Regions from separate parts of the Homo sapiens genome. Here region 1 is linked to region 2. A link means that fine-mapping ties the variant in region 2 to the expression of a gene that starts in the linked region. Tissue or cell type: prefrontal cortex. Region 2 holds a variant in brackets; the other region holds the start of a gene. All regions are shown on one strand. Distances are from middle to middle.

Region 1 (5,147 bases), 62 kb after region 2:
TTATGGTGTTTCTTACAGGGCTGCTGATGATTATTTTTTAACCTATGTAAGTACCACACTGTGCTATGAGCTCACTTTGATGTGCCCAACACTTGCCACAATTTCTAGCACATTTTTTAGGGTCTAAGAAGGATTCTCAGGTGCTTGGATGTGGCCAATATAATAAGCCATAGCTCTAAGAAAGAGAGGATTCTGCCCAGTTTACTCAGTGTATACAGCCAGTGCACTAAACCCCATTGGTAACAAAGCCTATTGCATCCAGTCACACCCAGTAACTCAACAGGGCAAATAACAGGGCAGCAAACCCTGGGGTTTTTGCCTGAGGAGGCCCCTGCACCATGAGGGCTCCTAGGTCAATTTTTCTGGGAAAGGTAAATGTCATATCGGGAAAGAAGGGCAATTCCCTTTCCTCTGGGAATAAGACCTTTGCTGGAAGTTGTGTGATTGCGGCACAGCTTGCCCAGTTGATTCCGCAGAACAGTTGGTGCTTGTCAATAGGCTCCAGAGCAGATGGCCCGTGTGCTAGGGGCCCAGACAGATGGTTGCCTGGAGGCGCAGACCAAAGCAAGAGCATGGAGCTGAGGGGATGTGTCCGTTATCAATTGCTGTGTAACAACCTCCTCACCCCAGACTTACAACAGTGGCTAAATGCAAGAAATATTCATCATTGCTTACTAGGCTGAGGGTCAACTGGACACTTCTGCTTATCTTGACTGGACTTGATTGATCATGGCTGTCATCATTCATGTATCTATGGTCAGCTGGGGGCTGGCCAGCCTAGGGTGATCTTCCATGTGTGGCAGTTAACTGTCATCCACTGTAGCAATAGGGGTGACTGGTGCCACTCATTTCTTGCAAGATGAGGCCAGGCATGTTCATGTGGTGGTGGCAGAGCTCAGGGTGAGCAGAGGCCATCAGGCTTCCTGAGGCCTAGGATTAGTACTACCTCATTCCACTGTGATCTATTGTCAGAGCAAGACAGGCCAACCCAACCCCTGGGGTGGGGAGTGGATGGCATCCCTTGATGGGAGCAGCTAAGTTGCAAAGCCAAGGGGCACAGATACAGAGAAGACTGTAAAATTGTGGCCTTTTTTTTTTTTTTTTCAAACTGTCTACCGCTGTGGATGAGGAGAATATTTCCACTATTATGCCTTCAGAGGTGGGAGTTTCTGCAGATGGAATGTTTCTCGATTAACTGATTTCTGTGAAAACACCTTAGTTTTCTGCCAACCAGCCTCCAGCTGAGCCAACACTAAAGACTGTTGAGAAAATAGGCATGTATGGATTTAAGCCTCAGCGTTTATGGCCTGGTTTTAGTTTTTCTTTTATGATTCTTTACATTATTAATTTTCAATTAATCGACTAATTACCAGTTCTAATTGAGTCAGCCAGACAGACTAATGTGTTTTCAAAAGGCCAATTTGCCCTCAATCATCTCAATATCTCTTAACTTTTGGAGCTGAAAAGGACCTTAAAGATAACCCAGTCTGATGCCCTCAAGTCACAGATGAAGATGCCCAGGCCCCAAGAGAGGATGTCTTTGACCATGGCCCTCTGGTGACTAGGAAAGCTACATAAGGGCTTCTCCCACTGTTCCACCTAGAAGGCAGTCCTATGAGGGCCCGGAAGAATGCTGTAGCAGGCAGAATACTGATCTCCCAAAGGTGTCCTAATGAAGCCATGCCCCAAAGAGTTAAAAAAACCAATGACTAACAGAAATTCTTGAGTTTGCAGGATGGCAGGTAAGAAAAGAAACAACTTGCTGAAATACTGAAACTCCCTCTGCTTATGAGATATAAGAACTGGCTGAAATCAGCTGGAACCAAGATGGCCGACCAGAGTCTAGGCAGAACCAGCTTGCTGATGTCACAGACTAAATTTCCACCATGTGCTTTATACTAACTTTCCCCATAATTGCCCAGGGGACCCATAAAATAGTATGAAGAGATAACTGCATATGACCCAGGACTTTCCAGCCCTTCCCTTTCTTCCACCAAATCACCTACTAATCTTAGAATCCCCTAAACTTTTTCTAATAAAAATACTGCATCACAGGAGACAGATTTGAGGTTGACACTGCTGTCTCCTTGAAAATCGACAATATATTGATTATATATTTAAAATTAAATATTTATATTTCAATAAAAAGCCTTTTCTCAAACACCCAGTGTCATAGCGTTGGCTTCCAATGCATTGAATCACTTTTGTTCGGTAACACTCACCCCTGGAACCTCTGAATGTGTTAGTTTGCATGGCAAAAGAGACTTTGCAGATGTGTTTAAGGTTAAAGACTTTGAGAAGCAGAGGTTATCCTGGATGGTCCGGCTGGACCAATCTAATCATGAGTCCTTAGACAGGGAAGGGGAGGAAGAAAAGAGGGTCAGAAAGATACAATGACAGAAGAAGAGGCAAGAGAAATTCAAAGTGTGAGAGGGTTTGACTCACCCTTGCTGGCTTTGAAGATAGAGGAAGGCAACAGAGCTAAGAAATGCAGACAGTGCTTAGCAGCTGGGAATGGCCCTTAGCCGACAGCCAGCAAGGAAACAGGGAACTCAGCCCTGTGACTGCAGAAACTTTATTCTGCCAACAACCTCAATGAGCAAGGGAATGAATCCTCTTCTAAAGCCTTTGGGAAGGAGCACAGCCCTGCTGACACCTTAATTTTAGGCCTGTGAGACCCATTTCTGACTTCAGGGCTATAGAACTTTAAGATAATAAATTGTGTTGTTTAAGCCACTAAATTTGTGGTAATGTATTTCAGCAGCAATAGAAAACTAATACAAATGTGACAGTGACAGACCCTCCCTTTTTCAGAATATCCTGGTGCATAGCAACTGATGTCATAGAAAGGATTCTAGAAGAGCATGTCATGGAGAACTCTTGGGTGCAGACAAGTGGATGATTAATGAAGTAGCATCTGAAAAACCCAAGGAACCAAATGTAGGTGGAGCAACTTCCCTGCAACACACGTCGAAGCTGCTGCAGTGGCTGTTCTTCCCCTCCCCTTGGAAAGGCACCAAAAGCCAGCCTTTGGAAGGGCTGGTGGACTGGTAGGCGGGTATATGGTGGGCAGGAGGGTAACGGGCATGACAATACCCAGCTGCAGGAGAAGCTCATCAGCAAATTCACTTATTGCTTATTTGATGACAGTTCAGTTGGGAAGAGGAGGTTTTTGTTCATTCATTCATTCAACAAAGTTTCATTGAGCACCTACTCTGTATTAGGTTCTGTTCTGAGTTCTGGGGATAATGAAGAGAAAAAACCAGACCAGGTTTCTGCATTCCTGGTGCTTACACTCAGGTATGGGAGAGAGAAAATAAGCAAGTGAACAGATAAATGAGCAATGGAATTCCTGATATTGATTAATGGTATGAAGAAAATAAAGACCGTCTTCTTTGATGGGGCAGTGATCAAGGAATCTTCTTTGAGGTAGTGAGCTCGTATGTGGTGGTCAGGGCAGTCATGTTCCAGGTAGAAGGAATGGCTGGTGCAAAGGACCTGTGGTGGGAATGAAATTGGCATATTCAAGGAAAAGAAATGTGCAAGGTGACTATGGCAGAGTGAAGGTGAACAAAGGAGAGAGTGATGTAAATTCAGACTGGAGAGGTGCTCAGTGGCTGCATCAGAAAGTCTTGTCAGCCAGGTTGAGGAGTTGGGACCTTATTCAAAGTGCAAGGGGAATCCACTGGAGATTAGTGATGTGACTGGACACATGCTTTATAAAATGCCTTTCCAACTGCTGTGTGGGCAGTGGGTTTAGGGGAACAGAGAGGAGTATGTAGTAGAGGAGTGTAGTTAGAAAGTCTCCACCTTAGAGGTGATGGTGGTCTGGATTAGGATGATGGCAGAAAAGATGAGAGGCGAATAGGTTCTGGAAGAACTGTAGATGGCACACCCTGATGAACCTGATGAACTGGCTTCTGGGGGAGAGGGGAGGAGAGGACTCAGTATGCCTTCTACGAGTTGAGATGATGCCTGCCCTGTGGAAGACAGACATTACCAGAAAATGTTGTTTGCTCTGTTGGGAAATGAAACATGCATTGAGATTCACTTTTTTTAATTATTATAATTTAAGTTCCAGGGTACATGTGCACAATGTACAGGTTTGATACATCAGTATAAAAGGGCAGGGGTGCAACCAGAGCTAAGAAAAATGTCCATACAAGTAAAATCTAGTGCTGTGCATATTTAATTCACTTACTCTTCAAATCAACACAATTAATTAAGTACTGTTTTAATCTGTGTTACAGATGAGGAAACTGAGGAATCAAGAGGTTGAGCAATTTGTCTAAGATTACTGCTGGGATCACTGATATCTCAGCCACTGAGGGGTAAAGCTGGAACTTGGACCCAGGCAATCTGATTCCCAAGTCTGAGCTCTTAAATGCAAGGCCCTCCTAGATACTGTATTTGGTGTACTGGTCATGTCTGCAACTAATCATACAGCTTGAGAGTTTGAACAAACGTTTGAAAGTATGATTCTTCTAATTCATGAATACACTTATTTCTAACTTTTGCCCAAGTTAGACATTTCTCAACAGGGGGCAATTTTGTCCCATAGGAACATTTTTGTCTGACATAATTTGGAGGCAGAGCTACTAGCATCTAGAGGCCAGGTGTACTCCTAAACAATCCAATGCACAGGATGTTCCCAGAACTAAGCATATTCCAGCCCAAGTGCCAAGGTTGAGAACCCCCGGTGTAGGTGTATACAGCCAGGAAGACATGCACCTGTGAACGGTGACAAACAGGAGGGTGCAATGAATTGTCCAATTGATATATAACGATGGAGTGCTAGGGGCTATGGGGTATTCCAGGAGGAAGATGAGTTCCAATTTCCAATTGCACATTCTAGTCTGAGGAATGGGACAGAGCACAAAACAGGACAATCATCTGCAGTGTGTCATGGAAGAGACTCTGAGAGCAATAGGGGCTCAGAGGGAAAATGGAACTTTTATGGAGGATCCATCAGGATTCAAGAAGTTGGCACCCGGGGTGAGGCCTCAAGATGCAGCAACATTTGAATGGGGAAAGGCATGGTAGGGCCCTGTGCATTGGGAAGAACCATGCATGAGGGCACAGCTCCCTGGAGAATGGAGTGGGGAGGTGCAGAGGCATCCAGAGAGGGAGTGCCATGAGAATTCTGA
Region 2 (5,147 bases):
ATCTATTTCACACTACCCTGCCGCAACGGCTGCCTAATATTTTGACCACCCTTAGCTATCTCAATGACCTGAAGTTCTGTCAAGACTTCCCAGTACAGCTCTATATTAGCTATCTATTGTGTAGCAAATGACCCCAAACTTAGCAGCATAAAACAATGAATACTTATTATCTCACAGTTTTCGTGATCAGGAGTCTTAGCTGGGTTCTGTAATTCAGAACCCAGCTAAGTTCAGCTGGGTCCTGTAATTCAGAGTCTCACAAGGCTGCAATGCAGGAATCAGTCAAGGCTGTGGTTTTACCTGAGGCCCAGCTGGGGAAGGGTCTGCTTCCAAGCTCATGTAGTTGTTGACAGAATTGTTTCTTGCGGCTATAGGACCAAGGACCTCACTTTCTTGCTGGCTGCTGGAGGTCCTTGAAGGCTGTTAGCTGGAGGCTGCCCGTGGTTCTCGAGGCTGCCTGAGCTCCTTGACATGTGAGGTTCCCCAACATGGTTGCTTGCTTCGTCAAAGCCAGTAAGGGAGAGAGAAGCTCTAGTAACAGCGTTTCAGTATTGTGTAGATACTTCTGTCTCGCTGGGTTCAGACTCCTTTTGAAGTCCCAGCCTCTACAAGGTCAGGGCTGAGTGTGGGTCAGGGTCAGGGTGTGATCTCAGGTCAGGCATGAGGACAGAGCTCCAGGGACATGCTAGAAAGGGACTGGGATTTTGTTAGATTGATAATGAGAACCAATCAGTTGGTTTTCAGAAACAAGCACAGCCCTTTCCAGGAGCCACAGTGAGCCCAAAGCTATCAAGACCCTGGGTTCTCCTCATGAAATAAGGTAACTACACTGGGGGATGGAGAAAACAGCATGAAGGGGACCCAGAGTTTGTTTCTTATACTCAGCAAAGCCACTCTGCTTATCTGGGGTAAAGGCAGAAATTTCTATTTATTCAGGTGCTACTCAATCCTACTCCTCTTTTTGGCTCAGAGAAAGGAGTGCACAATTCCTGCTGGACCAGGCCTTCATAAATGAAGGCTATGTCCGGGCTTGATCATCACTCCGAATGATGGGATTGCAGGATTTCCCTATGAGAAGGGGGTGGCTGGTCCAGTTTTCCCTGTGGCATGAGAAGAAGCACAGGGTGGGCAGAGCAGTGACCTGTTGGGCAGGGAGCAGAACTGAGTAAGTATTAAGGAGACTCTGGGCCACACCCTGGGCTCTGTTGGGGTGTATACTTGTGCCCATTATATTGTTGAAGAAATTGAGGCTGGGAGAGGCTAAGGGACCTGGGGAAGCTCACATAGTGAATAAGAATGGACTGTTCCCACAGCTCCTATCCTGCCTCCCTCCTGTGCTCTGATGTCACGGTCTTTAGGCCCTGTATGTGTACTTTGCCTTTTTGTACCATATGTGGGAGGTGAGATTTGGCTGGGGGATCTTTGTGGCCCCAGGACTGAGAAGCATAGTCCCCCTCTGGAACTGCAATATATCTTTGTTTTGGGGGAAGGGCTGGAAGTTTCAGACCCTGGTGGTTTGGAGGATGGTTTAACCTCCTAGCCCGTATTCTATGGAGGCAGAGGACAGAGCAGGGTATGTTTTGGGGAGCCAATAGATGACATATGTGTTAGAAACAAGAGACAGTCCCTAAGCTGGACAGTCTGAGAGATTGTCTGCCCATCTCTGAGGAAGCTGAAATCCAAAGAGCTCCAAGCTACACACCACACAGTGTGGGGCTGGGCTGGAGCTTGAGGTTCTTTTCCCACTTTCTTATGATCTCTCTGGAGGTCTGGGAACCCAGGAGCACCCCCACGTCCCTGGCTCCCAAAGAAGGCTCTCCCTGCTGGCTGCTGAAGCCAGGGGAGAGCATGCTCTGGGTAACCCAAGGTCTGGTTAACAGAGAACTGTTGCTTAAGTCATAGATGAATTTAGAGCCCCCACAAAATCCTGCTTCCCTGGAAGATAGCTAAACTCTGTGTAAGTGTCAGGGGCTCCTCAGCACTTGGAATGCCACCATCTGTGCTCTGGTGAGGCATGCAGTGCGGTGACGTGTTGGAGAGGAGCCAGCTTCCGTCTTCCTCTCAGGGTTACAGGCTGGGGTCTGGGTTATCTGCACTGGACAATGGGCACACATTCCATCTTGAAGAACAGATGTCCTGACCAGCACCAGCCACTTCACATGCACGCAAAGCCTGGAGTTGCATAATGGCTTTTCCGTGGAGC[C/T]GGAGGGAACTGGCTGGAAGCAGCAGGAGTGATTTAGGTATGTCACAGGAAGAGTTGCTTCTTTTTGCCAAAGACCCATTGGGAAGGGAGGAGAGGCAAACCCACCTTCCCAGGAGCCTAGTTCCCAAGGGCTGGGTGCTCCTTACTGCCAGGGAGGAGTCAACAGCCTCTTTGTCTTCCAGAGTGGGAGAGGGAGTTTGCCAAGGAGGGATGAGCTGCCTTTCAGACGCCTCTAACCAGGCTCCTGGAGGAGGAAACAGGATGAAATGAATCGTCCAGGAACAGGGAGGGTGGAGACTTTGCTTTGAGGGTTGGGGTGGGGATTGGTGACCAGAGCAGTTGTTTGAGAGCACTTCACCCCTGGGCACAGGGTGGTGTGCTGCAGGTTGCAGGGGGCAGGGAACCACGGGCTGTGCCACGCAGCCCTTCCTGGAAGCCCAGTCAGGAGCTACATGGGCTGGGTCCTGATGGGCACAGTGGCTTGCTCCAGGCTGGAGTGAGCAGCCTGTTGAAAGCCAGGGCAGGTGAATCCTAAGCCAAGATTCCTGCCTCCTACACCATTGCAGGGCTCTCCTGAAACCAGAAGGATAGGTTGAGTCCTGGCTCTGTGGTGATCTTGACCATGCCATTAATTCAGCCTCTGCCCCTTCTGGACCTCAGTGTTGTCACCCGTGGAATGAAGGTGTTTAAGGGAAGGAGGAGAGAGGGAGGGCAGGGGGAAAAGAGAAGGGAGGTGGGTGATGAGTCTGCTCAGAAGAACCCAAATCCCTCCAGATATTTGTTGGTTCTGGTCTTTTGCCTGTTGGCCGTTTGGAGTGGGAGGGCATACCCTTGCTTGTTAATGGAGTGTATCTGTTTTGGGACCCAGGGCTCTGAGTTGAGCATGTGGGGGAAGGGGTGGTGGGTGGAGGGTGACTGAAAGCAGGGCTGAAGGCTGCCCTGGAGCCATCACTATCATCTCTGCCTGAATGTCTGACTTCAACCACCTCAAGGGCAATTTTGCAATGAATTCCCAGGCACATAGCCTCAAGTGTCCAAATGTAGACACTTTAAGAGAGTACCGGGACATGCTTTAAATTATGTATATTACACAAATATTTACATATTCATTAACAAACTATTTTATTTTATTGGTGGGCTTATGCAACATTTTCAATTAAGAATTCGAGCTGGGTACGGCAGCTCACACCTGTAATTCCAGCAGTTTTGGAGGCTGAGTTCGGGAAATTGCTTGACGCCAGGAGTTCAAGACTAGCCTGGGCAATATGGCAAGATCCTGTCTCTGCAAAAAAAATTTTTTAAAAATTAGCCAGGCACAGTGGCACACACCTGTAGTTGTAGATACTTAGGAGGCTGAGGTAGGAGGATCCCTGAGGCTGCAGTGAGCTATGATTGCACCACTGCACTCTAGCCTAGGCAGCAGAGCAAGATCCTATAAAAAAAATTGTTTCAAATATAAAATTCTTCCTAATTCATAATAGTAACATATAACCATGTACACTAAAACAAAAACCATTATGTGGATTATTCGGACATTAAAAATAGCATAAGCAGGCCGGGCATCCTGTCTCATGCCTGTAATCCCAGCACTTTTGGGAGGCTGAGGCGGGCAGATAGCTTGAGACCAGCCTGGGCAACATGGTGAAACCCCACCTCTACAAAAAATACAATAATTAGTTGGGTGTGGTGGTGCATTCCTGTAGTTCCAGCTACTTGGGGGGGCTAAGGTGGGAGGATTGATGCTTGCTTTCCGGACATGAAGGCTGCAGTGAGCCAGGACTGTCCCATTACTGGTAATACTAACTTTGATCACTTGGCTAAGGTAGTATCTCCCAGATTTTTTCACTTTAAAATTATCTTTTCTTCCCTTTGTTATTTGCGGGGGGTTTTTGGTTTATTTTTCGTTTTTTCAAGGAAGGGTCTTACTCCGTTGCCCAGGCTGTTCCTATTGGAAATGACACAACTGTCATTTCCAGCTGTAATGTCATTACACAACTGTAATCCCAGCACTTAGGGAGGCCGAGGTGTGTGGATCATGAAGTCAAGAGATCGAGACCATCCTGGCCAGCATTGTGAAACCCCGTCTCTATTAAAAATACAAAAATTAGCTGGGCATGGTGGCGCACACTTGTAGTCCCAGCTACTCAGGAGGCTGAGGCAGGAGAATCGCTTGAACCCGGGAGATGGAGGTTGCAGTGAGCTGAGATCACGCCACTGCACTCCAGCCTGGGTGACAGTGTGAGACTCTGTCTCAAAAAAAAAAAAAAATGTGGTTGATTTTTGTTCGTTGATCTTGTGTTCTGCTACTTTGCTAGACTCACTTCTTATTTGGAGGATTTTTTAAAAAGATTGCTTGTGATTTTCTACATAGACAGTTGTATCATTTCTGATAGAAACAGTTTTATTTTTTCCTTCTCAATCTATTTATTTTTCTTCTTTTATTGCAGGGGTTAGAAATTCTAGTACTATATATATATATGTGTGTGTATATATATGTATATATATGTGTATATATATGTATATATGTGTATATATGTATATATATGTGTATATATATATGTGTGTATATATGTATATATATGTGTATATATATATGTGTATATATGTATATATATGTGTATATATATGTGTGTGTATATATATATATATATATTTTTTTTTTTTTTTTTTTTTTTTTTTTGAGACAGAGTCTCACTCTGTCACCCAGGCTGGAGTGCAATGGTGCAGTCCACTGTAATCCTAGCACTTTGGGAGCCTGAGGCAGGCAGATCGCTTGAGACCAGCCTGGGCAACATTTTATTTATTTTTCTTCTTTTATTGCAGTGGTTAGAAATTCTAGTACTCTCTCTCTCTATATATATATATATTACGTGGTGTTTATGTGGTGAATTACACTGATTGTTCTTTAAATATTGAATCAGTCTTGTATACTTAGAATAAATCA

Direction of the effects. Alleles are on the strand shown, and positions count from the first base shown. SD is a standard deviation of normalised expression in the study named.
With allele T in place of C in region 2, the expression in prefrontal cortex of the gene that starts at base 2,857 in region 1 is lower (small effect, 0.37 SD a copy in BrainSeq).

The links. PIP is the estimated chance that this variant, and not a neighbour inherited with it, causes the effect.
Region 1: LYZL4 starts here. The variant in region 2 is the best candidate, but not a certain one, in a credible set for the expression of LYZL4 in prefrontal cortex (BrainSeq, PIP 0.54).

Annotation. Positions count from the first base shown.
Region 1 is chr3:42,408,320-42,413,466 of GRCh38, reverse strand. LYZL4 (lysozyme like 4) reads left to right here and starts at 2,857. Exons shown (of 5, transcript NM_144634.4): 1 at 2,857-3,050.
Region 2 is chr3:42,470,687-42,475,833 of GRCh38, reverse strand. It overlaps LOC124909371 (a long non-coding RNA gene), which reads left to right and starts at 2,153. Exons shown (of 2, transcript XR_007095891.1): 1 at 2,153-2,240. The variant C/T (reference allele first, on the strand shown) is at 2,204.